Linked DNA regions of Homo sapiens. The protein of the gene in region 1 interacts with the protein of each later gene in a pairwise test. Each region holds a gene or a part of one and is shown in the gene's direction. Other genes may lie near its edges. The genes, in order: WDR7 and FRMD6.

The links.
Region 2: the proteins of WDR7 (region 1) and FRMD6 interact in a two-hybrid assay, tested with the Homo sapiens proteins (one large-scale study listed by BioGRID).

What each region holds. Positions count from the first base shown.
Region 1 is NC_000018.10:56,689,083-56,692,909, forward strand, and holds part of WDR7 (WD repeat-containing protein 7), read left to right. Parts: intron 1-2,133; coding exon 2,134-2,279; intron 2,280-2,632; coding exon 2,633-2,735; intron 2,736-3,827.
Region 2 is NC_000014.9:51,658,121-51,661,947, forward strand, and holds part of FRMD6 (FERM domain-containing protein 6), read left to right. Parts: intron 1-3,827.

The sequences.
Region 1 (3,827 bases):
TATAGAAAGGTGCTCAACTTCACTAATCATCATATTAAGACAATACTGAGATAGTACTACAACCCACCAGAATGGCTTTTTAAGATACTTATTATCATGAAGAAGTTTTCAATTGGGCTTACCATAAGCTGAGATTCAAATCTTTCATTTTCCCCTAATTTTTATATGGTTTTATTTTTAATTTTGTCTGTTTGTTTTGAGACAGAGTCTTGCTGTCGCCCAGGCTGGAGTGCAATGGTGCAATCTCGGCTCACTGTAACCTCTGCCTCTCAGGTTCAAGGGATTCTCCTGCCTCAGCCTCCCAAGTAGCTGGGATCACAGGCATGGACCACCACGCCTGACCAATTTTTGTATTTTTAGTAGAGATGGGTTTCACCTTGTTGCTCAGGCTGGTCTTGAACTCCTGGCATCAAGTGGTCAGCTTGCCTTGGCCTCCCAAAGGGCTGGGATTATAGGCATGAGCCACCGTGCCTGGCCTATATGGTTTTGTCTTACATACCTTTGAATCTTTAATCTGGAATTTATTTTGTATAAATTGTGAGATATAGATCCAATTTTATTTTTATGTCAGATGGACCCCCCCAGTTCCTGATGCCATTTGTTGAATAATTCATTCGTCTGTTGTCCCTTGATAATATACTATATTCCTACATTATTGGAATCTGTTTTCAGACTTCTGGATTTGTCTGCCCATTCATGAATTAATACTATATTGTTCTAACTTTTATAGTTGTATGATTTGCTTTAACAGATAATAGGGCTGGAGGGCTAGTTTCCCTTCCTTACTCTTTCTTGGAGTTTTCTTGGCTATAATTGTAGTGCTGATGTTATACACTGATAAATATTATAAGAAATCATGGTAAATGCAGCTAGGATGTGTTCTAACTTCAAGGCTGTATACAAGCAACTTCATTGTTTTCTTTAAAGAAAAGTAAAATAAAACCTCTGATCTATTGAGGAATGAGGAATTACTCATTCCTCCTGGGAAAATTTTCTAACAACATTTAATGTACTTTTTTCAAATATTAAAAGTGATAGAATAATTCTGCTAGGAATTATAAGAGCAGAGTTTTTAGCTTTGGCTCTATCACTTACTGGACACATGACTTTGAGCAATTGATCAAATCTTTATTTGTGTCCATTTCTTGTCTGTAAACTGGAATAGTAACATCTGCGGTGATTCTCAGGGTCATATGAGATAATAATTGTAAAGGTACTTTGTAAACTTTGCAGTGCCTTGCAAATGTAAAGCCCTATAAGGTTAGTAGCCTTTACTGCTGGTGAAATTATAGGGATTTGAATTTTATATGTGAAAATTATTACATAGTAAAATTGAGCCTGTTAACTATAGTATTTTAGAACATTGATGAAATAATGTAGAGCAAAGTAACTCCCTTATAATAATGAGTTATTCCCATGCCAGAGTTTATTGTTAGAAATGTTGCTACTGGGCCAGGCAAGGTGGCTCATGCCTGTAATCCCAGCACTTTAGGAGGCCAGGGTGGGAGGATCACTTGAGCCCAGGAGTTCGAGACCAGCCTGGGCAACATGGTGAGACCCTGTCTCTACAAGAAATAAGAAATAAAAAAGTTAGCAGGGCATGGTGGCATGCTCTTACAGTCCCAGCTAGGCTGAGGTAGGAGAATCACTTGAGCCCAGGAGTTTGAGGTTGCAGTGAGCTCTGATTGTGCCACTGCACTTCAGCCTGGGTGGCAGAGCAAGACTTTGTCTCAAGAAAAAAAAAAAAATGCTGTTACTAGACATAGAAATAAAACAGGGCTCAAGCCTGTATATTTGAGGTTGATTCCCTATTATTTGCAATTCTTTAATGGAATACTTTCACTAGATAGAAAGTCTGAGGATAACTGTTCCTGTAGTGGGGAGCACCCTCGCTCCACTTGTCATAGCCTATTCCCTGTCCACAGGGAGGTTACCCATAACTAGGGGCCTAGTTGTGTCTTCCCTATTGAAGGTGACCTCTCCCAGGGCTTATTGACAAACTTTCTTTATCTGATGCAGCAAACTGAGTTTTCTAAATACATTTCCAGGCTTTTTTTTTAAACTTGAAATGTCACTGGATCTTACTTTTTACAACAATATGGAGTAGATTGTGAATTTCTTTCTTCCTTGCAGGTGTTCGATGCCGGAGACTATTCCTTGTTGTGTTCAGGTCCTAGTGAAAATGGACAGACATGGACCGGGGGGGACTTTGTCTCATCAGATAAAGTCATCATTTGGACAGAAAATGGGCAAAGTTATATTTACAAACTACCTGCCAGGTATGCAGCAAGTAATAAATTAGGACAGTCATCAAAAGTAAAAGATTCAGAATTTAGGGTACAACCTGACTTTAAGAAAATGTATGTATTATAAATATTTAACTTTGATAAAACACTTCAGAACTTCTTAAGTTAGATTTTTAATTCCAATTTAACTTCTAAGTGCAAAAATTAGGTGGATTTTTATTTGAAGGACAATATTTTTATAACATTATTTAATTTAATGCCTGCATTAAATTAACTATAATTTAAAAATCCCCTTTTTGTCCAATACCAACAAACCTTGTCATATGGAATTATAAAGTATTTAATGTCAGTATTTTAATTGAATATTGTATTTTTCCCATATTCAGTTGCCTTCCAGCTAGTGATTCATTCCGCAGTGATGTGGGGAAGGCAGTTGAAAATTTAATTCCTCCTGTACAACATATCCTCTTGGATCGAAAAGATAAAGAGGTAAAATTCTTGAGGTGTCATTTATAATTGAAAGTTACATTGAAAAACTTCTACAACTGTATTTATTGTCTTGTGATAGGTTTAAAAAATTTGATACAATTCAAAGCACTGTGTTAAATGTAAAACATTTTGAGATGGTCAGTTATAAGGACATTTCAAAATCTGCTTGTTTAAAAACATATAATATGCCTATGAAATAACATTCGTTTTTCTAAGAGTACAAGTGATCTTATGCTAATTGCGTATTGAAATTGACTTTTTGATGAAGTTCATATTGATGGTGTAAATTATTTTACATACTATCATGCAATTATAAACATAGTGACAGATATATTTTTAGAAGAGCACACATAGTTATGTAATAATGCTGAGTAATAATAGTTCCTTTGTTGAACAAGGCATTGCAATACCTCCACAAAATCATGTAGCATTTTAAATCATTAGAAACTAGAAATAAAGAATAAAACATTTTTTCTCTATAAAAATAAAAGTTTATTGTGATTTCTGAAAACGTGCTTAATATCCACTTAATGTTGAAGTACAACAGCACTTAGTACTGGGTTTTCAACTCTATATTGAGCAGTAAGAAAGAAGCTTTGGCTTTGAAAGCAGAGTTTTTTTTGTTTTTTTTTTTTTTAATTGATGTTCTAGGTTTCCATGGCTTTATCATTCTGAACATTACGTCTCACGTTTATGTGGCCGGGTGGCTAGGGGAAGGGAATTGTTCTTTCCATGAATATTTTGAATATATAGAATTTGTATATCTATGTACAATTAAGATCATCTTTAGCCTGTCTGTTCTTTATTCAAACTTCCACTTACTGCTCTTCAACCTAGATAGTCATGTCCAATTAACCTAAGGAATAATGACTTGTATAAAAAATATACATAAGCAAAACCAAAAAAAAAATCATTTTCTTTAAATATCAGCTCCCTAATACGTTTTAAATTAAAAATGTGTATTTTGTGGTGTGTTGAAATGTAGAATATTGGTTATTACAGCTGCTGTAGCAATTTTTCCTTGTTAAATATATAGTTTATCAATTAAAAATTTTAGTCTGGGCGACATAGTGAGACCCCATCTCTACAAAA
Region 2 (3,827 bases), on another chromosome or scaffold:
AGTGAGTCCATTGGGGGGCTCACTGCCTGGAGGATGGGTGCCCTTTTCTGATTAATGCAAAGGTATTCTATGGCTCTGTTCAGATAGACTCAGATCTGCCCAGAGGAAATGGATCTGTAGCCCAATGAGGCAGAATTTTTCTTCTTTCAGCCTGCTGTACCTCTGCCCTCCATACAGAGCTCTGTTGGGGCTTGCCTTTTCCCTTTTTTCTCTCTCTCTCTCACTTCTAGGGCTTCCTAATGAGACTTTGGGTTGTAAGTATCAAGTAGGAGATCTCTTGAGGTCCCTCTTGATTCACTCTTGTTGATCCATAAATGATCTAGGATGGACCCTAATTTCAAAGGACTGCTTTGTCAATATTTTTGGAATAATTCATCCTTAAGAAAATGTTTCAAAAATTCAGTTTTTGGACTTCTCCTGCCTTTATGCTTCTCCCTCTTTTCTCCCTTTTTGTGTCTTCCTTCCACCCCCATCCAGTTATCGTTTCTTAAAGATCCCTGGAAACATCCAATCTTTGTCTACTGAGAGCAGCAGTGAAATTCTGACGCTAAAATCTGTGGCAGTCTCCAGGAAGTACTTATTGTAAAACATAAGATTATGATTTCACTGAGAGATCTAACAGATAAAACAAAGTGCTTGCAAAGGAAAACTATTCATGTATACATTTTATTTTATGTTTCCCTAAAGAATAAAGGACAGTTTTATTACTTAAGAAAAGACTCAGAGCTTCAGCTTAAGCTCATTAAAAAGGTGAAGAGAAGTTAAAATTAGAGAATTTTATAAATATGTGGTATTTATATATCCTACCCGAATAAGATACTGCTTATCACAGCAAAAATTTAGCATATGTAATGTTAACAAGTAAAAAATATGCTGACCATAGGGCCACAGCTCTGACAAGTTGCTCATGAAATTACTACAGAATAGCGTAATCCGTATTGAAGACAGCATAGAAGAGGGATAGTAAAATATAATGATAGGAATGAGGTCTTCGAGATCAGTTCCCTGGGGCCCAAATCCAGACTCCAGTATTCTCCCATGTGTAACCTTGGGGAAGTTACTTAACTCTCTACACCTCTTTTTCCTCATCAGTAAAGTGGGAGATAGTTATAATAGCTATCCCACAGGATTGTTCTTATTTTTAAGTGAAATGGTACGTGTAAAACAAATGGCATGGTCTTTGATATATAATAAACGTCTTACGTGATGTTAGCTATTGCTGCTTAAGACAAAAAGAAGTGATGTATAAAAGGACTTATAGTTTTATTGGAGGTTCCCAAGCCTTCATTTATAAGCATTTCATGAGATTTAACTTTGTTTTTTGATGGCATTAAGCAGGCAACAAAACCTAGTATTTCTCAGTTACAGATACTGGCAAGTCTGTGTTGCTGCAGTAGGAGCAGCTGGCCTGTTGCACTGATTACTAATTGATCGAGTTATTTTTCTTAATTCTCTTCTAATTTCCAGCCGTCTCAGTCCTTCAGCTTCTGTCTGCTAGATAACTGTTTCTTTCCATATGTCAAAAAAGCCAGCCTGCAGATTTTTAAAATTCTCCTTACGGTGACTGATGTTGTGCAAAGTTCTTTTAAAGAGTACCACTGACTGGCCCATGTCTTTTGCTCATGTTCCCTGTATGGCTTCATGTGAGTACTTCTGAAGAAAGCCACTATTATTGATATAAAGCAGTTCTTTATTCCCAACCCCTAACCATTGGCACAGTTTATATAATGTGGGTCAGAACCATTTGTGATTTTCTGTTATGAGGGCCAGAGTTTGAGATTTTAAACCATTCATTCAAAGAAACTTAAGAAAGACACAGTTAAACACCTTAGAAAGATACATTTTCATCTAACTAGCCTAATTACGAGCTCAGCTAAAAAAGGTACAGGATCCTCTAGAAGAATCGTGCTGTATCATTCTGATCTGTTTGTTAAAGGGCGGGGGACCTAGTCCAGATAACCCAGTTCCCCGTTTTGATTGTGTGTGTAAAATCTTGAGCTTAGTAAACTTAGCACTTTAAAAATGTTCACTAAGTCCATCAAAAGCCAGGTTTTATGTCTTTATGAAGTATTCAGGACTGTGCTGAATACTTTGTGCAATTTCTGTCAATGTGTTTCATGTCTAGTTGGGGGAACAAAATACATGTGTTTGAAAAGATATTAGATGTTTCCAGATGAGTGTGAAGTTGAGCTTTCGTTTTAGGGTCCAAAATCAAGGATGATCACATAGGATGTTCCCAGCCTTCCTGGGGCCACTGGATTTATACTGGTTAGTGAAGTCAGGCTAAGATTTTTCTATCCTTCAAGCCCATAGAAAAGGGGCTTTTCTAGTAGCAACAGAATGTGCAAGATCTGGTAAAAATCTCAAATATTAAAAGACAACTATGAAATTAAAATTATTAAATGTTTAAATTCATGCATTCAATATAATGTATGCCTAGGATATGCCAGGCACTGGTCTAGGTCTGAGAGATGTCAGTGAATAAAATAAAGGAAAAAAAAAAAAAAAAAATTCTGCCTTCGTGGACCTTATATTCTATTAGGAGGCAATCAGCATAAGAAAATAAGTGTTGTAGTATTTTGGAAGGTAATAAGCCTGATGGGAAAAAGAAAAAGTAGAGCAGGCTAAGGGACAGTAGGAGTGCTGGGGGAGGGAGGCAGGGACTTTGCGATTTGGTGGAGTATAGTCAAGGTAGGCCTCACTGAGAAGAGGGCTTGAAGGAGGAAGAGAGCCACACAGAGCTAGCTGGGGGAAAAGTGTTGCAGCAGAGGGACTAGTGAAGGCATCAGGCGGAAGCATGCCTGATGTGTTCCAGGAGCAGGGAGAAGGCCACAGTGGTGGAGCACTGAGAGCAGGGAGAGAAGGAGTAGTAGATAAGGTTAGAGATGTTTGGAGAGCACATGTTTGGCTTGTGTGGACTGTATTCAGGACTTGACTGTGAGTGGAATGGGGAGCCAGGTTTTGTGCAGAGGAGTGAGAGGATTTGATTTGCATTTTAATAGAATCACTGGTTGCTGTAGGAATCTGGAATTTAGGGAAGAGGTCTAAGTTGGAGATACAAATTTGGAAGTTGCCAACAGAATTTGGGTGAGATCACTTGGGGAATATGTGTAGTCAGAGAAACAGGCTTATGGACCAAGCCTTGGGGCATATCAGTATTTACAGTTTGTAGAGAGAAGAAGAAATCACACACATAATCCAAGAAGTGTTTTAAGCCAAAGTAATTATGCACGTTTTTCCAACATAGTGAACCCAATTAAGTGTCTCCATTCCTTGAGTAACAATGTTATCACTAGAAGATATTGTGAACTCTATTGATCTACACAATGGAAGAATGAACTATGAGTTGTTTTTCTAATTGCGTTGATGGTCTTGGGCTAAACCTGGATGCTTCATCTTTTAGAGGTTGTGTTGATAAGGAGGAATCAGTAAAAGAAAATTAAAAAGGAGCAAGCAGAGGATAGGAAGAAAATTAGAAAAATGTCCTTGTAGTCAAAGAAAATATCTCCAGCAGAAGAGTGGATCAGTTAGCTCACATGTTGCTGAGAAGTCAAGCAGGGTGAAGACTGAGAGTTGCTCATTGGATTTAGCAACCTGGGGAGTCATTGGTGATGATGACAAGAGCTGTGTCACTGGAGAAGTGGAGATGAAAACCTTATTGGAGTGGGTTCAAAGAGAATAAAAAATTTATGAAAGATAACTATTACTTGTAATTCAGTTTTGTATATTACAAATATTCAATATTGATGTGGGTACATTTTAATATGCCTGGTAGGATGTGCAGTGGGACTTTGGAAATGGGAATGTTGGAGGCCGTGCATATCTTC